Linked DNA regions of Homo sapiens. The protein of the gene in region 1 purifies or fractionates together with the protein of each later gene. This does not show direct contact. Each region holds a gene or a part of one and is shown in the gene's direction. Other genes may lie near its edges.

Region 1 (3,500 bases):
AAGATTGGTGAGTAAAAAGAATTGTCAGAGCTGAGTGCATACCTTGTGCCGATCTTTGTGTTGATGTTGTGTTGATGCTTTACAGATACTATTCAGGAGATTTGGATTTGTCATTATTATTTTGAGACTGAGCTTTGCTCTTGTTGCCTAAACTGGAGTTCAGTGGTGCGATCTTGGCTCACTGCAACCTCTGCCTCTGGGTTCAGGCAATTCTCCTGCCTCAGCCTCCTGAGTAGCTGGGATTACAGGCGCACGCCACCAGGCTGGGCTAATTTTTTGTATTTTTAGTAGAAACGGTGTTTCACCATGTTAGCCAGACTGGTCTCGAACTCCTGACCAGGTGATCCACCTGCCTCTGCCTCCCATAGTGCTGGGATTACAGGCGTGAGCCACTGTGCCCGGCCTGTCATTATTTTATAGATGAGGAAACAGGATTAGTGAGGTTAAGGAACTTTCCTGAGGTTTGGGTCAAATCAGGTGTGTATACTATCATGTATCCATTTTCTTAACATTTTTCTCAAGTTTGAAAATGGGAGAACAGCTTCATAGAGGAGTATATGGGGCTTTTCATGACCTTAAAGTCTCCCTGAAAAGGCTAAGTTCCTCTTTTCCCACAGACCTGGGCTTAAAAGAAAATCTTTAGTAATCAGAATTTTACCTTCAGTTAAATTTGTTGTATATATCTTGGGATAGATAGCATTTATTTTTCTGTAATGTGCAACTCTTATAAATTCAAGGAAATAAACAGAATTTCCCAATGTTACAGAAGGGCAAATAAAATTAGGAGTGACTTCCTATTTAGTTGTAAAGACAGAAGCAGAAATATACTCCAAATTGACTCATTGCAGACCCAAGTATGGTTATATTTTCTAACTCATAATCATCCATTAAAAGCAAATAAATATTCTTTCTGACACTTTCAGTTTTTTTTTTCATGTACTGGAATTCCTCTTAATCTAGAATTGGGAGACCTAGTTTTGTTTCTCTTTTTTTTTTTTTCGCTCTACCAAAATTGGAGGGGCCTGGTGTTTTACACTATCTAAAGCCCAGAGACTTGAATTTGTAATTTTATTTTTAACCTATGCCATTTCAGTTGAAGACTTGTTTATTTCTGAGTTTGACCTCTTTCCTATATAGGATGAGTTTTAGGCTCTTCTGCCAAGTGTGGATTCCATAGACAGCCACAGTTATAAATGCTTTACCATATAATTTCTCAGAGACAGGGCACATGTTTGAAGAGGCTGTTGGCAAACAAGTGGGGTCTGCTACCCCTTTCTCAGTTTTATTCTAGACAGATTTACATTTATCCCTTAAAGTTAGCTAAATTCAGGAATTTTGCTGAGATGTAGGCTGCTATCTAGAAGCAGGTAAGAGGAAATAATGTCTTACTGCTCCATGGGTTTCCTTAACTGCAGATGAAACATGTCTCATTATTGGGGAATACTGCAGCCAAATAGCCTAGCCGCGGGAGAATACAAAGCATTTAGTCCTGTTGACCGTTTGTGAAAAGTGTTGCTCCAGTTACACTGTTAGTGTTTACTGGATGCTGTACTTAAATGTGATTAATGATAGCATATGATTGACTAAAATGGTGTCAGTGGTGGCATTACCAATTACAGGAACTCAAGTATCCCCACAGTTTGTGATCGCGAGTATTTTTTCGTGTTATTTCTTTTCCTTTCCCATCATCATGATTTCTAGTTTGGCTCTAAAGAAATGCATCTCCTTCACTTCAAAGTTGTCTTTGGTTGCTTAGTTCTTTTTGTCTTTGTTCACTGCTGCTTCCTTCCCACTTTACAAATCTTTCGCTTGTCTCCTGTCTGCAGTTTCCTTCCCATTCTGCTCTGTGTGTATTTAGATCTTACCAGTCTATTTCGTAGTCTCTCCCATGGAGTGTATTTTCTAATTTGTATCTCTCCATCTGTATGTCTTTGAGGAAGTTTATTTAAGCTCTCTGTGCTTTTTTAGATTACTCTTAAGGTGTGTCTTGATAACCAAGGTTATTGGAGAGTGATGCTCTTGGTTAAAAAAAAAAAAGCAGGAGGTAGTAAAGTGAAAGTAAGCTTCTTTTATGCTTGTACTCCTCAGAGGCAACCACTATTTACTATTTTTAAGAACCAATTTAAAAAGAAGTTTGTGTAGTTACAGTCTCATTTTAAAAACATCCTGTGAGATTATACTGTATTACTACTGTTCAACTTGCTTTAAAGGTTGAAACAGCGTGCTGTGGTGTTTCAACCATAATTTAACCAGTCTGAAAATTCGTTGACATTTAAGTCACTTCAACTATCTTGTGTTTTTTTTTTGTTTTTAAAGACTTAGGCCAGTTGATTTTTAGAAAGAAAAAAATGATAATTAGAAGCTAGGGTTTTGGTTTATTGGAAACTTAAGGATAGTTTCATTTGGGAGGTTGTTCCCCTAATTTGTGCATATCAGAATTTCAGTTCCCAAGATGACTTGGACAGTTGTGAAGTTAACTGTTATTTACCACGTTTGACTATTGCTCTCAATTTTCTTCCATCTAGTCCACCCAGTGGTATTACTGAGTTTTGAAAGGTACTTTTGAATATTAAAAAACGCTTTACTTCTGAATATATAAAAAAGCCAGAAGAAGGAATCTAGAAAGTGGAATTGGGGAAGTTAGAGTAAATAATGATGTCCTTCAAAGCATGCATGCCAACTAAGGTGAACTTAACATATGTTAAATTCATCGTAATAAGAACCCTCTCCATATCCTTAAATGTGAGTTAACACCCTTATAAAGATTTAAAAAGACAAGAAAATAGTTGAATTAAATTCATCACCTTTTCTCTGTCTCCTATTCCATATTAAAAAGGGTACTAAAGCTCTAAAATTTGCATTTCAGTATTTTTCATTCTGTTTCCTGGTTGGAGCTTAAAATGAACAAGTATTTAGTATTGCTGAGATTTATAAGAGATAATCTTTAATCTTATTTATCAGAAAACTTTTCTTAAATAGCGTCTTTAATATAAACTATCGCTGTGAAACTCTTTTTCTTTCCTATGTATATTATTATATTCAGTAAACTTATGTGTTTAATTAGATGTAAAATTAGACGTTATTCTTGATCTTTGGCTTCCCAATTTCATTAGATGGGATTAGAATTGTCCCTTTTGTGTCTTTGATATATTGTGGTTATCTCATCCCTTTCTTGACTCATCAGCACCAAGGTTAGATTCATTAAGTTAGATTCATTAAGATCATTAAATTTATATGAAACCCACAGCTTTAAAGTAGAAGAAAACCCTACAAATCAGCCAAAACAGATGTTTAGAATTGATTGTTGTGTTTTAAAACTTTATTTTTTTGTTTATATATATTGTCCATATAATTAGTTATCTTTTTAAATTGCTTTTGCTGACTTAGCTATTACCTTTAATCTTTTTTAACTTTGGGATATTCAGTTTATTTGGTCAGAGCTATAATTATGGCATGGTTTTTTTTTTATTTTTTATTTTTGAGATGAATTTTTGCTCTTG
Region 2 (3,226 bases), on another chromosome or scaffold:
CTGTGTTCCTGCAGAGGTAAGAGGCCCTGAGATGCATGCTCTGTTCCTTCCTTCCTGGGCCCAGGGAGTGTCCCCTTTGTCCTGACGGGGGCTGGACCATGGCACACTGTCTGGGAGCACTTAGTAGGTGCCTGCTGTGTGCTGAGGCAGGCCCTGCCCTTTTGAGGCTTGTGGTTTGCAGTGGAGGGATTAGTAACCCCAGGACGGTGAGGTGTAGGAGGGGCAAGGCCAACCCCACGATGCGTCAGTGGGTGAAGAGTGAATGCCCGGACTGGAGGGAGACGCTGCCAGAGCTGGTGGGGCCAGGCCAGAGGCGGGTGGCTGTGGCAGGACCCTGGACCACCTCAGGTCGGGCTAGGATGGCACCTATGGGACCAGTGGGGGCTGCTGGTGGGTGTTCAGATCTGGGGGCATTTCTTGTTGCTTCCATTTGCTTTCTGTGGACCCCTGGGAGGTAGCACATCTTCTGATGGTCCCAGGCCTGGGGGTTTCCCAGCCTGCAAATCCTCCTCCCACAATGCCGAGAGCCAGAGTCCATTCCACCTCCTTTCGCCCCCAGGAACCTCAAGAAGTTCCGCCGCCGGTGGCAGAGCGAGCAGGCGCGGGCCCTGCGCGGTGAGGCCAGGAGCTCCTGGAAGCGGCTGGTGGGCGTGGAGAGCGCCTGCGACGTGGACTGCCGCTTCAAGCTCAGCACTCACAAGATGGTGTTCATCGTGAACTCCGAGGACTACATGTACCGTCGCGGGACCCTCTGCCGGGCCAAGCAGGTGCCAGGGGAGGCCTGGGCTGCCCCGACATGCCCCTCCTCACCCCAAGTCCTGGGGCCCTGGGGGTCCAGCCCTCAGCTGCCCTGACACCCGGCCTCTTCAACAGGTGCAGCCCCTGGTCCTGCTCCGCCACCACCAGCACTTTGAGGAGTGGCACAGCCGCTGGCTGGAGGACAATGTGACGGTGGAGGCGGCTAGCCTGGTGCAGGACTGGCTGATGGGTGAGGAGGACGAGGACATGGTACCCTGCAAGACGCTGTGTGAGACAGTGCACGTGCACGGCCTGCCCGTGACCCGCTACCGCGTGCAGTACAGCCGCCGCCCGGCCTCGCCCTGACCCGCCCTCATGGGCACCGGGCAGGCGCCTCACAGAGCACAGACGTGCCCTCGGCCTTGGTCGTGTCGGGGCCGTTTTCTTGAACGACGTGAGAGGCATCTCCCAGCCCCTCTGCTGCCGGACAGCGCACTCCAGGGCAGGACGCCGCCCCCGTGGCTCCCGGTCTCCTGTGGGCCTGCTGTGTGCCAAACCTGAGCTACCTGCACCCGAGCCCTGGGGCTCAGCCCCACCACAGGGGCGGGTGGACGTGCTGGCCGAGGAACAAGCAATCATGTTTGCGTCCCCGTCCGTCACATGTGCCAAATCCCTGGCAGGCAGATGGCTCCTGCCCCATATTCTTGCCGTGTCTTGGAAAAGTCACAGGTGACAGCCCTCCTGAGGCCCACACTTTGGAGGGGGTCCATGTCCAAGAGACCCTGACAAGGAAGGAGTTGAGCCCTGGGTAGGCTTGCTTGAAAAGTGAGTCCTTCCAGAATATTCTCAGAGCTGCCAGAAACATCATCTGAGGGTTTGGGCATCAGCTCTGCCTGGCTGGTGTTCAGGCCCTCAGTCACTTTGGAAGTGAGAAGAACCCTTCAGCCAAACCTTTGGGATCCCATTTTGAAGTCCAGAGCTGGAGCAGGCGGGCAGTGCCCTGGGAGACCCCGCTCTGGATAAGACACCCAACCCCAACTCCAGCAGCTGGACTCTGGGCCCACAAGGGGAGGGACCCCAGCCAGTATTCCCTCAGAGCCGGCACGACCCTGCTGTGGGGCGGCGGGCCCAGTCGTGTTCCTGCAGTGGGCACCCTAGGCGTATGTGTATACACGCACAGATATTTATTCCTTTCGCTTTTAGTGGTTGTTATTTCTGTAGCAGCCAAGTCCTGCGGCTCCCTGGGGCTGAGATCTCCCTTTGTGGAACTCCGAGAGCCGCCCTGACAGTCCCAGCCGCCACCCAAGGAGCCCCATCCGCCCACCCACCCTGGGACCCACGCGGCCACTCCAGGGATCATTGTTGTCCTTTTGTGAGGGGCTGAGGCGACTGTCCCATGGAGGCATCCAAGGCTTTCTGTGCCAAGAATCCCAAGTGACTGGGGCTGGGGACCACTTCTCCAGGCCTCTCTCCCCGACCATGAGAGCCCCTGGCCCTGGCCCCTGCACACCAGTAGGCCCAGAATAACCGCCACCCTTGCCATCCTGCAACAGCTGGACTCAAGTTTCCAGGAAGTGGAGATGTGTTTCTAGAAGTTTCCTGTGGAACCTGGAGGCTCCTGATGCCTTTGACTCCAGGCTGGGCGATTCCGATGCTGACCCGTCCTCCTGGGCTCCCCACCCCCGCTCCCCAAGTGTCACACAGGCACTTTGTACACATCCTGGTTTTCTAAGAAGGGAACTTGCCATCAAGATTCCTGTACCAGGCCCACGGCCGTCTCGGGCAGAGCCACCTGGGCCCCGGGTGCAGCCGGAGACCCCGCCGAGCCCCTCCTCCCAGTATTCCCATCCCCGCATGCTTCTAGGGAGCGCCTCTTTTCCGTTCTTGAGGAATTTCTGTTCTGGGGCTTGTCCTTCCTTTGCAGCTGTTTTGAATGTAGTTTTCCTTTTCTATTTATTTGCACATTAAAGTTAATAATTGAATATTGACATCAAGCCGTGAGGGTGTGTTGGTCTTCCTGTGAGAGCCTTGCTGACTTCCTGCCACCAGGTCAGTGGGCTGGACCCATGAGAGCAAGGGGTGGCTGGGTGTGCCTACCTGGGACCAGGGGAGTCGAAGCCCCTCCTTGAACCAAGATCATCTCACACCCTGCACCTGCCCCGCCACGACATGGGAGTGTCTTCTAGAATATTCTTTCCCCATTCCATTTGCACATTTAGTGGGAATTAGAAGCGTCTCCTTCGCCCGAGTGTCTCTCATGCAGAACCCAATTTAAAGATCATGGTGTTTGCTCTAAGGTGTTTGTTCTAAGCTTCCCATGCCCAACCTATCCGTCCAGGCCCATGCCTGCCCACCCACCCCACACGACCACCCTCTGTACTCCTTGGGGCCCCACCCACTTCCTGGCTTTCACCATCATTTTCTCCTCATCTCCTGCCCCCTGTCTGCATCCCAAGCTCCACACCTGCTTCCGGGTAGCAGAAGCCCC
Region 3 (3,500 bases), on another chromosome or scaffold:
CAGGAAGATTTGTTGTCAGAGTTTGGACAATTCCTACCAGATGCCAACAGCTCCGTGGTATGTTTTTTTAATAAGAATTACACTATTTACTATTATTATCTTAGATGAGTTGGAAAACTGTGCTCAGAAGGGGACTTTTCCTAGATGATATTTGTTTGCTTTGATAAGAGCATTAATCTCATTCATGTGTCTTAATCAGCTTTTAAGCAAAACAACTGCTGAGAAGGTTGATTCTGTGAGAAATGATCATGGAGGCACTGTCAAGAAGCCCCAACTGAACAACAAGCCGCAGAGGCCCAGCCAGAATGGCTGCCAGATCCGCAGACATCCTACAGGAACCACCCCTCCAGTTAAGGTGAGAATGGGCAGCAGCTGCTCATTTTGACACTCACAAGTATTTCTAATGGAGAGGTACTCTAGAGGTGGTCATGTGTTTTGTTGTTGTTGTTTTTTTTTGTTTTTTTGAGACCGAGTCTCGCTCTGTCGCCCAAGCTGGAGTGCAGTGGCACGATCTCGGCTCACTGCAACCTCTGCCTCCCGGGTTCAAGCGATTCTCCTGTCTCGCCCTCCCGAGTAGCTGGGACTACAGGCGCATGCCACCATACCGGGCTGATTTTTTTTTTTTTTTAGTGGAGACGGGGTTTCACCGTGTTAGCCAGGATGGTCTCGATCTCCTGACCTCATGATCTGCCCGCCTCGGCCTCCCAAAGTGCTGGGATTACCTGTGCCCGGCAGTCATGTGTTCTTAAGTGTGTTAACGGTTGGGTCCTAGATATTTGGAGGAAGTTAGTATTGTGTCACAGAAACTCAGTGCAGAGTTTATCTGGCTTTGCAAAAGAGTATTAGAATAACATTGATTGCTTGGATTACTGTACTTTTCTGAGTTCTTTATTATCTCTCCTTTGCAATGAGCTGTCATTTCTTTAATGTTTTGGTTGCTACTAAGAATTTCCAATACTTGAAATTTTTTTCCCTTCTTTTTTTTTTGAGATGGAGTCTTGCTCTGTCGCCCAGGCTGGAGTGCAGTGGTGTGATCTCAGCTCACTACAACCTCTGCCTCCCGGGTTCAAGCAATTATCCTGCCGCAGCCTCCTGAGTAACTGGGACTACAGGCGTGTGCCACCACGCCCAGCTAATTTTTGCATTTTTAGTAGAGATGGGGTTTCGCCATGTTGGCCAGGCTGGTCTTGAACTCCTGACCTCAGGTGATCCACCCACCTCGGCCTCCCAAAGTGCTGGAATTACAGGCGTGAGCCACCGCGCCTGGCCCCTTCTTCTTTGATGCTTTAAATCTGCCTTGTGTTAAGAAAGAACATTCTTGAGCTTGAGAATTATTTCAGAAATAAGTGGTCTCTGAGGTCCTCTTGTGAGTAGAGTGCATGTGTTTTTTGAGATCTCTGGTCTAGAACCCTGTCCTGCTCAAAGTTCTTTGTTGGGTTACCAGATCTTATGTGTATCATCTTAATCTCCAAGGCAGGACCTTTGGGCTGTAGCAGAGGGAAGTCTTAAACTCCTCTTAGTAATCCATTACATGATGTTTTTTGTTATAGTTAACACTGATGGTCTGCCTGCAGAAAACTTAGCTTGCTCCCTTCTTTGATGTAACACAGCTATGATAGGGAGAGGGCTAGTTGTATGTATTGAATGTTTAATTCTTCAGTGAATTTCAAAGCAGTATGTAATATAGAAGAGACAGATATGTCTGCAGAATTAAATAATGACAAAAGTTTGGGAATTTCTAATAGTAAGAGGTGGCTGATGAATAGTGATTGACTGACTACAAGGTCTGACGTACTAGGTGTTACTGACACTTTTGAAGTATCCTTTTCATTAGTGTTTGTCATGGTTTCTTCTTTTGAAATCTTTTGAAATCAAGTTGAACATAATAATGGTTTCTATTTCTTCATTTCAATAAAGAGAATTAGTTATATGGGTAGCAAGAATCAGCTCAGTAGATACACTCCATGCTTGGATTTACGTCCGCCCACTCTTGATTACCTACAGGTGGCAAGAATATAGTGGGGGCTTAAAATTCTCCGCCTACTTTCTCCATAGGCAGTGTAAGCAGAGGCTGCGGCTCTTAAGAAAGTATACTCTGAGATAGCCAAGGTAAATGTGCTACTTCTCACAAAGTTTGTGCATTTCTTCATAGAGAGTAAGTGGTGGATTTTAAAAGTAACTTCTTGCCTGACAGGATTATATCATGGCCTGTTGGTTCCCTTTAGAAGAACAATATTAAATTAGTCTGAGTGGATATTGCTGGCGTGCCTTTTTTTTTTTTTTTTTTTTTTTTTTTTTGAGATGGAGTCTCACTCTGTTGCCCAGGCTGGAGTGCAGTGGCGTGATCTCGGCTCACTGCAGCCTCCACCTCCTGGGTTCAAGCGATTCTTCTGTCTCAGCCTCCTGAGTAGCTGGGACCATAGGCGCACACTACCACGCCCAGCTAATTTTTTTGTATTTTTAGTAGAGACGGGGTTTCACCATGTTGGCCAGGATGGTCTCAATCTCTTGACCTCATGATCTGCCCACCTTGGCCTCCCAAAGTGCTGGGATTACAGGCATGAGTCACCATGCCCAGCAAATTATGCTTTTTAAGTAAATTTTTAATTGAAATATTATTCAGGGTTAAAGATTGATTTCTGTCAATTTGTGAGCTCTTTTTACAAACAGCCTTTTCTCCCTCAGCTGGTAGGAGAACAAAACAGTGGCATTAGATTCTACATGAAGTTACTTTGGGCCCCTAGAAAAAGTAAGGATATTCTAAAAGTTTGTCACAGTAATGTCATGATCATTTCTGGAGAAAATATTTTGGGGGTAGAATGATCTTTGAACCTCTGTTGTAGAAAGAAACTTAATAGGCAAACTGAAATAGAAAATATGAGTTGAAATCTTAGAGGGTATGGAGTGAGTTGGTTAGAGTTCTCTCATTTGTTTCAAATTATTAATCAGCAGTGGTTTCAGTGATGAAACCATTGAATACAGACAAAAATAAAATTCAGAGAAAACCACTCGTTGAATCTCACATGTTTGTATCTTTCTTTTGCAGAAGAAACCCAAACTGCTCAATCTGAAGGATTCTTCTATGGCAGATGCCAGCAAACATGGTGGTGGAACAGAATCGTTATTTTTTGATAAGGTGAGTAATGGATGAGTTAGATTTGATAGTGCCTGTTAATGCCAAAAGAAAATCATCTTATCCCCCTGGAAGGTTTCGTTTTAAAGGTGTCAGGCTAATTAGGACTTTCTGTTTTTTAACATAGTTTCCCAGTTGTGAGTCCTTTGAGTCTGCTAGTACTATTAGCATAGCTAGAAAAATGGTAGCATTGTTTGCTTTGGTTTTATGAAGCAGTTTGGGGCAGAAGACAGATTTTTAGAAAATGTATTATGTTTCTCTTGAAAGATGTTTGGAGCTCCCATTGTAGATATCCAGGTCTGTGTGGCAGGCAGTACCAGTGCCTGTACCAATTTTTGAGGATTTAAGATGACTTGTAATCTTTTTT
Region 4 (3,500 bases), about 87 Mb from region 1:
GCTGCAAAAGTGGTCAAGGACACTTGCTTGGGGGAACTGTATCCTAAAACATTCCTAGTTTGTTTTTTGTTTTTTGAGACGGAGTCTTGCTCTGTCGCCAGGCTGGAGTGCAGTGGCGTAATCTCGGCTCACTGCAACCTCCGCCTTCCAGGTTCAAGCGATTCTCCTGCCTCAGCCTCCCGAGTAGCTGGGATTGCAGGCACCCGCCACCATGCCCAGCTAGTTTTTGTATTTTTAGTAGACACGAGGTTTCGCCATGTTGGCCAGGTTGGTCTCGAACTCCTGACCTCACATGATATTACTGCCTTGGCCTCCCAAAGTGCTGGGATTACAGGCATGAGCCACTGTGTCCTGCATTCCTGGTTTACATTGAAGACTCTTTGAAACGTTCAGACCGCCTAGCATTTTTCATTGGAAAGGTAATGGCAAAACAGTATGAAAGAACCTTAAAAGCTCATACTTTTGTTCATTCAACAAACATTTCTTCTGTTCTGTATTACGCTTTCTGCTAGATATGAAATGGATACTGCCATCATTTCTCAGGTCTTTTCATTCTGATATATTTCTTTTTATTCTTTATCCATATGCAGGCATAGTCTATTCATTCTAAGGCATAGTGGACATACGGTTTGCTTTGCCTTTCTGTTTGGTTATATTGAGAATGTTTTTCTGGGTTACTGTAAGGTGTCTCATTATCATTTATAATGGCTATATAATGACCCTTTGAGTTTCAGTATCTAACCAAAAGTTCCAAAATTGGGGTAATGATTATTTATTTTGAATTCTTAAAAAAACCCAGCATTGTGTTAGGTTGGTTACCCGATAACATTGTACTTGTCAAAAATGCTTAGGGTTCTAGTCATGGCCGAAGTAAATCATTTCCACCTATTAAGTTGCAGTGAGTTAATTGCCCAGTAGATGCTGGAGGCTGGCTTTATCTCTAAGGCTGATCTTGATGACTTCTTCCCCTCTGAGTTGGTGTTCTTTGGCATTCTTCAGAAAGGTCGGTTTGTGTTATATCTTAACATTATGTCTCAGAACACATCGCCACTAGGTGGCAGGCTCTAACAGCTTAACACTGAGAAGGGCAAAATGAGATGAAAAATGTTTCTAATAATGAAAACCAAATAACCTTTAAAGATCAAGCCCACACATAAGAACCATCTTTGAAAATGATGAGATTTATCACTAACATTTTTACAAATCTATGAGTCTTAAAGCCATGTGATATTTCCAGTGATGTTCATTTTGTAATTGTGTTGCTTTGAATCTTCCTCTTTCTAAGCTTAATCCTCAGACTTTACGAGACATGTCTTGAGGGTGAAAATGCAGTAAAATAAAATTCTTGTTTTTTTAAAGAAGAGATCCACAATGTCTGGTGTTTCCTAATGTAAACAAAATGATCAGATTTGATGTGTTAGAACTCCTAAGCATTTTGAAGGAATTTTCACCATCTTTCTTACATTAACAGCAGAAATTTAGAAAATAATGTCACTGGATGCATTTTACTTTTTCAGTGAAATTGAAATTGCTTATTCTCTTGTTAAATATACTTTGAGAATGTTGTTTTTTTTCTCTATTCTGTATACTTTTCATTTTTGGCCTTGGCAGTCAGAGATCATAATGCAGTTGTTGAAGGTGGGTCTCCCTCTTCCCCAATGACAATTGAAAAGTGTTCCTGGGAATACTGGCTGAGGTGTTCACTGGTGCAGTGCCAGCCTCTCCCATCTCACCAGGCTCATGTTTGGCTTTTGTATCAGTTTGGAGGTTTTGTTTTTCTTTCTTTGGCAGACGTGGCCTGTGGCTGAGAGGTCAGCTACATTGCTTTATGCTCTTTCCAGAGGGTATGGAGTATTTTGGTGCAGCCGTATTTTTGGCAGAAGATGTCTTCCTGAGTTTTAAATGACTTCAGCAAAACAAATGGGATTCAGGCATCGCATCTTGGTGTGAATACTTGCCAAGCTCCCTTTCATTTTGAAAGATAAGGATCTTCCCTTTGCCTTGGTCTTATACTGCTTTTAAGGCATTCTATATCATGCTATGTAAATTTGCCTCACATTTTGATTTGGACTAATGATCTCTCAAAAAATACTGTGAAAAAGTAGCTGATATTTGAAAATAACTAATTGATGGTACGGGTGGACTTCTGTTTTTCTCTCCTTGTTTTAAATCTGGGGCTGCCTGTGAGTCAGAAACGAAGCCACCCACTTGCTCAAGAGCATTTTCCCCTTCAGCCTTCGGTCGACACAAAAGACTTAAAACAGTGAATATTTACCAGTAGAATTGGGACTCCTTGAGGTTCTGTAGCTATAACGTGGACTCACTTATTGGGGAAATAAAGTGTTAATACCAGGATTCTCAGTAGGATACAAAATTAAATTAATTTTCCTACCTCCTCGCCCCACTTTTGTGTCCACCTTCTTAAGAAATTGCTTTTCGAAAATAGTACAGTAGTGGTAATTTCTAGTTTTGTTCGGTTTAATAGTAGAGGTTCAAAGCTTTAAGAACTTAATTGTAGAGATTCCCAGGTCAGAATTTCCATTAGTTACAAAGTAATAGAGTCAGTTTGACATTTGGGGCTTAGTCTTTGAGGCTATTTAAATATCTTTTTTCAGCAGCTGAGTTGCAGCTTGTAAAACAGGTTAATTGGCCTAAAAAAAAAACGCACATTTTTACTACCCTGTTGATGTTGCTTCGTAGCACATTTTATATCTAAACATATTTTTAAATTTCTTCCCCCCCCTTTGATTTTTCTTTAGAAATTAAAAAGTAAATTCTTATGTTAAGGTTGTCACATACTTCTTGGTTTCATCTTTAACCGCCCCCGCCCCCCCATATGAACACTTCATTTTTTATTTTTTTGAGACAGGGTCTCACTGTCCCCCAGGCTGGCATGCAGTGGTGTGATCATAGCTCACTGGAGCCTTGATCCCCCTGGCTCAAGCGATCTTCCCACTTTGGCCTCCCGAGTAGCTGGGACTACAGTCCTCCATTACCATGCCTGGCTAATGTTTTTTTGATTTTTAGTAGAGATGAGGTCTTGCTATGTTGCCCAGGCTGTCCTCAAACTCCTGAGCTGAAGTGATCCTCCTGCCTCAGCCTCCCAAAGTGCTGGGATTACAGGTATGAGCCCTGAACACTTTAATATCTAAGGACTTATCTTTTCAGAGAATTCAAATAATTTAATAGATTTGGTATCTAGGGATAATGGTTCCCCCAAGACATCGTGTAGTGCATGAGGATCCCTTGAAGGTCTCAGAGACTGCGGTTCAGGAGGGACCTGGTGATCAGTTGGTTTGGAAGTTGGCTGCTTTGGGAAGCATGTTGGCCACCTCTACTTTGGAGCAAATAGGGACCAATGGTGGACATTCAGGCCACCACCATTCAGTGATTCCAAAGGAGGCGGATCTGGGAGGTGGCCACATTCCCAAGTTCCAGACCACTTCCCAGAGGTAATAGACCAGCTTGCATTGTTTACTCTGGGTGTTCGCTTTTAAGTC
Region 5 (3,500 bases), on another chromosome or scaffold:
TAAAATTCTCCCCCTATAATTTTTATGTTGACTCTTGTGATTTTTAACTTTTAAAAATTCCATCCCAAAAAATAATGAACAACTTAATTTTTGAAGAATGTGATAATAATTTGAACTACAAGTCAAAATTTTAAGTGCAAAGAAATTGTTTAAATAAATTTTGCAGTTTGCTTCTGTTAAAGCATCTCTGTTCTACCATATGTCTTTCATGTTAAACTTTCACAGTGTTTTCTTCTCAAATGTTGGTGCTGAGCAAATTCTAAGGCTACGGAAAAGCCTCTACTATCCAGAGAACTTGGATAGTGAGTCATCTTGAGGGACCAAGTTTTGAGTAGCCAAGAAGTAAGCAATCAAAAGCCAGAAGTATTTTTAATCTGTTTTAGAAAATGAGAAAAAAATGAGTCAGCCTTCCATGTTATATAAAAATAATTGAACATGATTTAACTCTTTCTCATAGTTTGACTTTTATTTGATGAAGATCAAGATGCAGATCATTTTGTGCTTCAGTTATTTTGATGAATGAATATATGTGATATGAACATAGAAAATGTGGACTATAGGACAGACCTGGTAATTAACAGTTGCTTTCCTTAAAAAGTTTGTATTTTCCTCCTCATTTGCCTCTTTCTCACTGATAGTAATATGGGTAGACGGAATAAGGGAACGTAGGAATGGCAGACCAGGAGAGCCTGTGGTAAACATAATAAGATTAGTTTTCCTTTTTCTTTTTCTTTTTTTTTCCTTTTTTTGAGATGGAGTTTCGCTCTTGTTGCCCAGGCTAGAGTGCAATGGCACGATCTTGGCTCACCACAACCTCCACCTCCTGGGTTCAAGCGATTCTCCTGCCTCAACCTCCCAGGTAGCTGGGATTACAGGCATGTGCCACCACGCCCAGCTAATTTTGTATTTTTAGTAGAGATGGGTTTTCTCCATGTTGGTCAGGCTGGTCTCGAACTCCTGACCTCAGGTGATCCGCCTGCCTCAGCCTCCCAAAGTGCTGGGATTACAGGAGTGAGCCACCATGCCTGGCCTTTCTTTCACTTTTTATTTTTGAGACAGGATCTCTGTTGCCCAGGCTGGCGCAATCTTGGCTCACTGCAACCTCTGCCTATCAAGTTCAAACGATCCTCCCACTTCGGTCTCTCGAGCAGTTGGGACTACAGGCATCCACCACTATGTCTGGCTAATTTTTGTATTTTTATTAGAGATGGGGTTTCACCATGTTGCCCAGGCTGGTCTTGAACGCTTGAGCTCGAGCAATCCTCCAGCCTCAGCCTCCCAAAGTGCTGGGATTACAGGCATGAGCCACCACACCCGGCCACTTTTCTTTTTTTATGTGACAGGCAAATCAGCCATGTGAGCAGTTCTGAAAGAAGAATCCCAAAAATGTTTTTGAGCAATGTTAGCCTTTAAAGGACACAGTCATTTTGGTGCTACATTCTGGTGAGTTGGTGGAAAACAAACCAAATGTGGGCTAATTACTTTATAGTTATAGCTTATAGTCAGTCCTTTAAAGTGATTTAAAAATGAATAAAAGTAAGAGGGTCTAGAGACCAGTATAGTTTTATATACTCATCTGTATTTTAGATTAAATCTATAGTGGATTTTTTTTTTTTTTTTTTTTAGACTAGGTCACTCTGTCACCCAGGGTGGAGTGCAGTGTCACAATCATGGCTTACTGCAGCCTCCAACTCCTGGGCTCAGGCGATCCTCCTGCCTCAGCCTCCTGGTAGGTGAGACTACAGGCTCATGGTACCGTGCCCAGCTAATATTTTTATATTTTGTAGAGATGGGGTCTTCCTCTGTTGCCCAGGCTGATCTTGAAGTCCTGGGCTCAATCTGTCCTCCTGACTTGGCCTTCCAAACTGCTGGAATTAGAGGCATGAGCCACTACGCCCAGCAGAAATTATTATTTTTGATAAATCTTGTTTATTTTCTTTTAAGGCTTAATATAGGTCTTCTCTTCATATTACAGTTTTTCTTCCTATTTGAATTACGTTCAGATATATTTGAGATGTTCAGATAAATTTGAAAATTAAGTTTATCTTTTATATTTGCCTTTTTATTAACAGAAATGGATGATGAAGACTGTGAAAGAAGAAGAATGGAATGTTTGGATGAAATGTCCAATCTTGAAAAACAGTTTACCGATCTCAAAGATCAGTAAGTAGTGACTTTAGAAGGCCATTGTCACTGAATCTCAACCTTGTCACTTGTATACTAGCACAAGAGCAACTAGATTCAGTCTCAGCTGTTTTGTATTTTATGCGACAGACCAATTTGAAAGAGGCTTCAACTATTGTTTGTCTACTAAAGACCTCATTAACTAAACTGAGGGTTTGGAGGCAGGGTTTTTTTGTGGGCTTGAACCCAGGAGTTGGAGACCAGCCTGGGCAACATCGGAAGACCTGGTCTCCATAAAATATTTAAAAATTAGCTGGATGTGGTGGTACGTGCCTGTGGTCCCAGCTACTTGGGAGGTTAAGGCAGGTGGATCAATTGAGCCCAGGAGGTCAAGGCTGCAAGTGAGCTGTGCTCGTGCCATTGCACTGCAGCCTGGGCGACAGAGTAAGACACTGTCTTAAAAAAAAAAAAAATTAGTTCTGTCCTGCAGGATTATTGCCAAAAATAAACACTGAGTTGTATCATACTCTAAAGGTATTGGTGACAGCTGGCAAATTAGAGTATTTGTAAGTGGCCTTATAAATAGGAGTAACAGGGACCTCCTGCCCCATTTTTGAGTTCCTTGTTCATTGAGCAACTAATTTTGTTATGGCTTCTTCATTTGTAGTTGAGACAAACTTAGTATGTCAGGTCATAAAAACATTGGTTTTACCTTCATTAGTCTACTTCCTCTTTGCTCTTTTAAAAAATTAAGTAGGCTGGGCCGGGCACGGTGGCTTACGCCTGTAATCCCAGCATTTTGGGAGGCTGAGGCGGGTGGATCACGTGGTCAGGAGATCGAGACCATCCTGGCTAACACGGTGAAACCCCGTCTCTACTAAAAAATACAAAAAAAAAAAAAAAAAAAATTAGCCGGGCGCCTGTAGTCCCAGCTACTCGGGAGGCTGAGGCAGGAGAATGGCGTGAACCCAGGAGGCGGAGCTTGAAGTGAGCGAGATTGCGCCACTGCACTCCAGCCTGGGTGACGGAGCGAGACTCCGTCTCAAAAAAAAAAAAAAATTAAGTAGGCTGAATACAGTAATACTGACTCCTTTTCAGGAACGGTAGAGAGAAGCCAAGTAATTATTTATTTTGACAACTGGTAATGTCTATTCAAAATGATTTCTTTGTTTCTTTTAAACTCAGTGTTTAAATGACCTTTTCTCTTAGAATTGGTTTTATTGTTCTGTGGTTAAAACAAAAACAAACATTAATAGTGCCAAAAAGTAGTTATTTCAATTTTATTTTTTTGTATTGGGAATTGACCATTAAAGAGTGATAGATAGATACCTGTTTTGTGATTATGTGCATAAAGTCAAATAATGTAACTGAGTTCT
Region 6 (3,500 bases), on another chromosome or scaffold:
CTCGCAGCAATATACCAGACAGCTCACCTCTGTCAAATGGAATGGAAGGTGCTCAATTTTGAGGATGGCTGACTTTAAAAAAAATCAATAACATAAATAATAAAACTTCCATTGTGTGAAATATTCACAGTACAGGTTGAGTATCCCTTGCCCAAAATGCTTGGGACTAGAAGTGTTTTTGGTTTTTGATTTTTTTTTTTTAATATTGCATATACATAATGAGATATCCTAGGGATAGGACCCAAGTCTAAACATGAAAATTAGTGTTTCTTATACACATAGCCTGAAAGTAATTTTATACCATATTTTTAATAGTTTTGTTCATGAAATAAAGATTGTGTTATTTGAACCATCAGAAATCACAGGTATAATTGTCTCAGCCACCCATGTGAACAGTCTGTGATTGTTTGGCATCACTGTTATTCTTGACTCTGAATTTATATGCCAGCTACTGATAAGCAATTTTCTTACACTTATTCACACATAATTACATAACAGTAAAACATATGACTTACAATTAATACAGTGGAAAAATTGTGTGGGGAAACTAAGCAGCAAGGTAGCATCACTAGAATACCTGTATCAGCTGCTAAACAACAGCAAAAACAAACAGCAGGCTTTCAGTCTCCACCTACGATGCTGTGTTTTCATTAAAAGGTTACCCGTACACTAGCTTGGGGTTGCTGAAGAAACTGTTGTGCACCTGTGTTTGGATGCAATGTGTCCCATGAGGTCAGGTCTGGAATTTTTTACTTGTGGTGTCATGTTGGTGCCCAAAAAGTTGTGGAATTTGCAGCATTTTGGATTTCAGGTTTTTGGACTAGGGGTGTTCAACCTGTAAATCACCTAGGATTTTAATCTCATATGATTTAAACTATAAAATTTGATTTGAAGAAAATATTTTGCTGTATCATTTTTATCTAAAATTTAGTGATGTTTTCATTTAGGAATACTTTTTCTCATAAGTATCTTGAAAATAATATATTTTAATAGAAGGTGAATTGACAATCCATGCATCCTAATGTGTGCTACACTTTCCCTCAAAGCCTGTACCAGTGTATCCTATAAATTCAATGCTGTTCATCTGGGATCTTTCAGCAAAGCTGAGACCATGTGGTTCTAAGAGAACACAGACTACTGTGGTGCAGGCATGTTTTATAATGAGTATAGGTGAACATATTTTATTCTGCTTGTACTCGTTTCCCCCACTTTTCTACCTCTGTATACTTTTAAATGTAATTAAGAAATTTTAGGCTGAGTGCAGTGGTTCATGCCTGTAATCCCAGCACCTTGGGAGGCTGAGGCAAAAGGATCACTTGAGCCCAGGAGTTCCAGACCAGCCAGGGCAACATAGTGAGACCCCATCTTTACAAAAAAATTTAAAAATTAGCCAGGCATGGTGGTGTGCACCTGTGGTCCCAGCTACTCAGGAGGCTGAGGTGGGAGGATTGCTTGAGTCTGGGAGGTCAAGGCTGCAGCAAGTGTAATCACATCACTGCACTCCAGCCTGGGTAGCAGAGCAAGACCCCACCTCACTCTGTTGCCCAGGCTGGAGTATAGTGGCGCAATCTCAGCTCCCTGCAACCTCCACCTCCTGGGTTCAAGCAGTTTTCCCACCTCAGTCTCCCAAGTAGCTGGGACCACAGGTGTGCACCACCATACCTGGCTAATTTTTGTATTTTTAGCAGCAATAGGGTTTTACTATGTTAGCCACGCTGGTCTCGCACTCTTGACCTCAAGTGATGTACCCGCCTCAGCGTCCTGAAGTGCTGGAATTACAGGTGTGAGCCACTGTGCCCGGCCACCAAAAAAGAAATTTTAAATGGTTGTCTTATATAAAAATTTCTCTTCTTTCAAGAAAAAAGCTATACTGAACTACATGTTTGCTATTAGTCCATATGGTGCTTGTGTGCAAATTATAAAAGGACATCCTTCCTCTTTACTGCCATCTGCTGACAAATGTTTAAGATGTCCACAAAGTGAAAGGTACCCTCTTAGAAGGCATACCTGTGTGCAGTGTCCAGTCTATACAACTACATACCAGCCTTATTAAACTACCACTGAAAGGGATTTTTTAAAACATGAAAATGAATTCTACATTCTGTTTATGATAAAACCACAAAATAAAACTGTATACACCTTTTCACTAAAAAATTCATGTTTGCAGTTTTGAACTTCTTGAGGATTTGAGCACCATGTGGACAATATTTTTATATTTTTTAGATCCTATACAGTCTTAGAACCCTACTTTACTATTTTACAAGTTCCCTTACAGGGAACAATTTTTGTTTCCTGTACTTTCTTGTCTGTTAAGAATATTTAAAGTTTTGAGGATTCCAATTGCCCATTTTAAAAACTTTTCTTGCTGGGCACGGTGGCTCATGCCTATAATCCCAGCACTTTGGGAGGCTGAGGTGGGCGGATCACTTGAGGTCAGGAGTTTGAGACCAGCCTGGCCAACATAGCAAAACCCCATCTCTACTAAAATACAAAAATTAGCCGGGCGTGGTGGCCTGCGCCTATCCCAGCTCCTCAGGAGGCTGAGGCAGGAGAAATGCTTGAATCCAGGAGGCGGAGCTTGCAGTGAGCTGAGATCACGCCACTGCACTCTAGCCTGGGCAACCAAGTGAGACTATGTCTCAAAAAAAAAAGAAAAGAAAAGAAAAAACCTTTTCTTTCCACAGTTATTTTAAGTAGAATGTCATATTCCTTTCTTAGGGTACAAAATGCCCATCATCTGTCCTTCCTAGATACTATCTCAAACCACTTAACAAATTAACTTCATGTCTAGGATGTCTAGGTACTAATCTTTTGATCTTTTTTAAGGACTATTGTACCTAAATATGATACTGGGGAATGTTGCAAAATAGCTTTTCATATAGATTTGAGTTAGTAATATGCAACGTAATATATTTTTGCTTGGAGCTTAGTTTCCCCTCCCCCTCAAATTCTTGGCACAAATGTTATGATTTGTTTTATTTCAGAAATTTCTACAGGGAGGTATTCAGAGGTACATGATTAAAGATTTTTATTGTTATTTTTGGTAAGATTTTTATTGTAAAATTACATTGGTAATATAAAAACCTGTATAATATAATAATATTTCCTCTTACAGACTCTTGTTCATCTGATAGTGAAACAGAAGATGCTTTAGAAAAGAATTTAATAAATGAAGAACTTTCTCTTAAAGATGAACTAGAAAAAAATGAAAATTTGAATGATGATAAGCTAGATGAAGAAAATCCAAAGATTTCTGCACATATATTAAAAGAAAATGATAGGACTCAAATGCAGCCTTTAGAAACCCTGAAGTTAGAAGTTGGAGAGAATGAACAAATAGTACAGATTTTTGGGAACAAAATGGAAAAAACAGAAGAAGTTAAGAAAGAAGCCGAAAAATCTCCAAAAGGAAAGGGAAGACGAAGCAAGACAAAAGATCTTTCTTTAGAAATTATAAAGATTTCATCATTTGGCCAGAATGAAGCAGGAAGTGAACCTCA
Region 7 (3,500 bases), on another chromosome or scaffold:
CAGGCACCTGGGTCTGTCGGACTCCGATGCCCGAGTCCTTCAGAGCAGAGTGGTCCTGCCCTCTGGTCCCGGGACGCAGAGCCACCCTCGTGGAGCCCAGATGAAGGAAACGTGCAAAGATCAGCACAGACCCACAGGCGTCGGCGCCACGTGGAAGGGGCTTTCCAGGCCTCTGGGATTTTTTCCTTTTTCTTTTTTTGAGACTGAGTCTCTCTCTGTTGCCCAGGCTGGAGTGTGGTGGTGTGATCTTGGCTTACTGCACCCTCTGCCTCCCGGGTTCAAGCAATTCTCCTGCGTCAGCCTCCCAAGTAGCTGGGATTACAGGCGCACGCCACCACGCCTGGCTAATTTTTGTATTTTCAGTAGAGATGGGGGTTTCCCCATGTGGGTCAGGATGATCTCAAACTCTCCTGGCCTCAAGTGATCTGCCTGCCTCGGACTCCCAAAGTGCTGGGATTACAGGTGTGAGCCACCACGCCTGGCTTTTTCTTTTCTTTCTTTCTTTTTTTTTTTTTAAGAGACAGGATCTTGCTCCGTCACCCAGGCTGGAGTGCAGCGGTGCCATCGTGGCTCACTGCAGCTTTGAACTTCTGGGCCCAAGCAGTTTTCCCGCCTCAGCCTCCTGAGTAGCTGGGATTACAGACATGTGCCACCATGCTACCCAGCTGATTTTTAAATATTTTTGTAGAGACAGTGTCTCACTGTGTTGCTTGGGCTGGTCTTGAACCCCTGGGCTCAAGTGATCCTCCCGCCTCAGCCTCCCAGAGTGCTGGAATTCCAGGTGCGGGGCCTGACAGCCTGTTGTGTGTGGCATTTGAGTGTTCCCAGCCACGCCCCGGGCTCCTGGCCACTAGTGTGGCAGTCCCAGCAGAAGGTACCTCCTTCCCAGGTTTGCTAGCAAAAGTCCAGATTGAAGCTCCTTGGCCTGGCCAGGATCATGTGCCCACCCCTGAGTGAATCAATATGGCCTGGAAGACAAAGTCCTGGCTGGCCAGGTCGGGGTCCCGTGTGCCCTGCCTGCAGCAGTGGGTTAGCTGTTCAGAAGGAGCCCTTCCAGCCTGCCTGTGGCTGTCTACACACACGCACACACACTTGCACACAGTGCACTCAAAAGCATGGGCACATGCACACACACACGCACATATGTGTGCACATGTACACATGAATGCACATACAGCCACACACAAAAGCAAGTATACACACATGCAGATGTACATGTGAATGCAGGCACGTACATGAACCATGTAAACATGAACATGCACACATATGCAAATACACTACACCCACACAAATGCACACTTGCACACGTACACAAACGTAGGCACATACATGCGTGCACGTGCATCCATGCACGTGCATGCACACGAGTACACGTGCACACACACAAACACGTGCACACACGAACACGTGCACACACATGAACACGTGCACAAATGCACAGATGAACATGTGCACACACAGGCACATATACATGGCAGGACCCAGTGTGAGAAGTGGTGGTTCAGACAGGCTGGCAGGGAGCCCCCAACGTGCTGTAGGTGTGGGGCAGGAGCACCTGCATGTTCCAGAAGGGGTCAGTGGTGTCTCAGGCAGCATTTCCAAAGCTGCTCTAGAATGGAGTTTCAAGTCTCTCTTGCCCAGGTGCAGTGGCTTAAGTCTGTAATCCCAGCACTTTGGGAGGCCCAGGCGGGAGGATCACTTAAGCTTGGGAGGTCAAGGCTGCAGTGAGCTGTGATTGTGCCACTACACTCCAACCTGGGCAATAGTGTGAGACCTTGTCTTGAAAAAAATAATAGTTTTAGCCGGGCGCAGTGGCTCACACCTGTAATCCCAGCACTCTGGGAGGCCCAGGCAGGAGGATCACTTGAGGTCAGGAGTTCGAGACCACCCTGCCAACATGGTGAAACCCCGTCTCTACTAAAAATACACACACAAAAATTAGCCAGGCGTGGTGGTGCACGCCTGTAATCCCATCTACTTGGGAGGCTGAGGCAGGAGAACTGCTTGAACCTGGGAGGCAGAGGCTACAGTGAGCCAAGATCGTGCCACTGCACTCCAGCCTGGGCGATAGAGTGAGACTTCATCTCAAAAAGAATAATAATAATAATAACTATTTTTTAAAAGATAAAAAAGGCCAGGTGTGGTAGCTCACGCCTGTAATCCCAGCTCTTTGGGTGGCTTATGTGGGAGGATCACTTGAGGCCAAAAGTTCAAGACCATCTTGGGCAACATAGTGAGACCCCCATCTCTACAAAAATAAAAATATTAGCCGTGGATTCCTGTAATCCCATCAACTCAGGCGGCCGAGGGAGGAGGATGGCTTGAGCCCAGGAGATCGAGGCTGCAGTGAGCTATGATATTACCACTGCAGTCCTGCCTGGGTGACAGAGCAAGACCCTTTCTCTGAAAAAAGTAATTTTCAAAAGAAAAATAAGGCCAGGTGCAGTGGCTGACACTGCGATCCTAGTGCTTTGGGAGGCAAAGGTGGGAGGGTGGTTTGAGGCCAAAAGTCTGAGACCATCCTGGGCAACATAGTGAGACCTTGTTCTCTACAAAAATAATCAAAATTAGCCGGGCGTGGTGTGCGCCTGTATTCTCAGCTCCTCAGAGGCTGAGGTGGGAGAGGATTTCTTGAGTCTAGGAGTTCGTGGCTGCAGTGAGTCATGATGGCGCCACTGCGCTCCAGCCTGGGCAACAGAGGGAGACCCTGTCTCAAAAATAAGAAGTCTTGTAGCGGCAGAATGCTTAGATCAAGGGAAGCGCCTCTTGGAGACCCAGCATGTCAAAGAGATGGAAGAGGGGCTTCCCCACTTGAAGCGAGACAAGGAGCTTCCTCATCTCCCCACAGTTGGATAGGGGTTGATTTAGAGGCCGAGGGCCCAGAGTCCCAAGCGGCAGAGCCTGCCAGGCGGCGGGCTCCTTGGGGCTGGGCCAGGGCCTGTGCCGTGACACACGTGTCCTTGCAGCGGCGTGGCATGAAGGGCAAGGCCCGCAAGCTCTTCTACAAGGCCATCGTGCGCGGCAAGGAGATGATCCGTATCGGGGACTGTGCCGTGTTCCTCTCTGCCGGCCGCCCCAACCTGCCCTACATCGGCCGCATCCAGAGCATGTGGGAGTCGTGGGGCAACAACATGGTGGTCCGCGTCAAGTGGTTCTACCACCCCGAGGAGACCAGCCCGGGCAAGCAGTTCCACCAGGGCCAGGTGAGCCTGCGGCCCGGCTGCGGCCCCCAGTCCTAGGCGGTGTAGGGCAGACCTGAGGGCGAGGCGTTCTGGGTGCTGGAGCATCAGCAGCCCTGCCCAGTGGGTCAGCCCTGTCCTGGGGCCTGGGGTCGGGTGCAGCAGCCCCCGGGCTCACCCAAGCCCCTCCTCTCTCCCCCACACAGCACTGGGACCAGAAGTCCAGCCGCAGCCTCCCGGCGGCCCTGCGGGTCTCCAGCCAGAGGAAGGACTTCATGGAGGTAGGTGGTGGTGGTGGTGGTGGTGGGCGGGTTGGGGATG

The links.
Region 2: the proteins of SINHCAF (region 1) and SIN3B purify together in Homo sapiens (affinity purification with mass spectrometry; 4 studies listed by BioGRID and IntAct, with this or other methods). This does not show direct contact.
Region 3: the proteins of SINHCAF (region 1) and SIN3A purify together in Homo sapiens (affinity purification with mass spectrometry; 5 studies listed by BioGRID and IntAct, with this or other methods). This does not show direct contact.
Region 4: the proteins of SINHCAF (region 1) and SUDS3 purify together in Homo sapiens (affinity purification with mass spectrometry; 4 studies listed by BioGRID and IntAct, with this or other methods). This does not show direct contact.
Region 5: the proteins of SINHCAF (region 1) and BRMS1L purify together in Homo sapiens (affinity purification with mass spectrometry; 4 studies listed by BioGRID and IntAct, with this or other methods). This does not show direct contact.
Region 6: the proteins of SINHCAF (region 1) and ARID4A purify together in Homo sapiens (affinity purification with mass spectrometry; 4 studies listed by BioGRID and IntAct, with this or other methods). This does not show direct contact.
Region 7: the proteins of SINHCAF (region 1) and TNRC18 purify together in Homo sapiens (affinity purification with mass spectrometry; 4 studies listed by BioGRID and IntAct, with this or other methods). This does not show direct contact.

The regions. Positions count from the first base shown.
Region 1 is NC_000012.12:31,316,151-31,319,650, reverse strand, and holds part of SINHCAF (SIN3-HDAC complex-associated factor), read left to right. Parts: intron 1-3,500. UniProt on the Homo sapiens protein: Subunit of the Sin3 deacetylase complex (Sin3/HDAC), this subunit is important for the repression of genes encoding components of the TGF-beta signaling pathway.
Region 2 is NC_000019.10:16,877,624-16,880,849, forward strand, and holds the end of SIN3B (paired amphipathic helix protein Sin3b), read left to right. Parts: coding exon 1-16; intron 17-559; coding exon 560-767; intron 768-873; coding exon 874-1,104; 3' UTR 1,105-2,726; downstream 2,727-3,226.
Region 3 is NC_000015.10:75,406,691-75,410,190, reverse strand, and holds part of SIN3A (paired amphipathic helix protein Sin3a), read left to right. Parts: coding exon 1-57; intron 58-199; coding exon 200-355; intron 356-3,046; coding exon 3,047-3,136; intron 3,137-3,500. UniProt on the Homo sapiens protein: Acts as a transcriptional repressor. Corepressor for REST. Interacts with MXI1 to repress MYC responsive genes and antagonize MYC oncogenic activities. Also interacts with MXD1-MAX heterodimers to repress transcription by tethering SIN3A to DNA.
Region 4 is NC_000012.12:118,404,055-118,407,554, forward strand, and holds part of SUDS3 (sin3 histone deacetylase corepressor complex component SDS3), read left to right. Parts: intron 1-3,500.
Region 5 is NC_000014.9:35,829,338-35,832,837, forward strand, and holds part of BRMS1L (breast cancer metastasis-suppressor 1-like protein), read left to right. Parts: intron 1-457; exon of another isoform or gene 458-570; intron 571-1,343; exon of another isoform or gene 1,344-1,443; intron 1,444-2,072; coding exon 2,073-2,163; intron 2,164-3,500. UniProt on the Homo sapiens protein: Involved in the histone deacetylase (HDAC1)-dependent transcriptional repression activity. When overexpressed in lung cancer cell line that lacks p53/TP53 expression, inhibits cell growth.
Region 6 is NC_000014.9:58,361,055-58,364,554, forward strand, and holds part of ARID4A (AT-rich interactive domain-containing protein 4A), read left to right. Parts: coding exon of another isoform or gene 1-48; intron 49-3,115; coding exon 3,116-3,500.
Region 7 is NC_000007.14:5,308,835-5,312,334, reverse strand, and holds part of TNRC18 (trinucleotide repeat-containing gene 18 protein), read left to right. Parts: intron 1-2,966; coding exon 2,967-3,203; intron 3,204-3,385; coding exon 3,386-3,460; intron 3,461-3,500.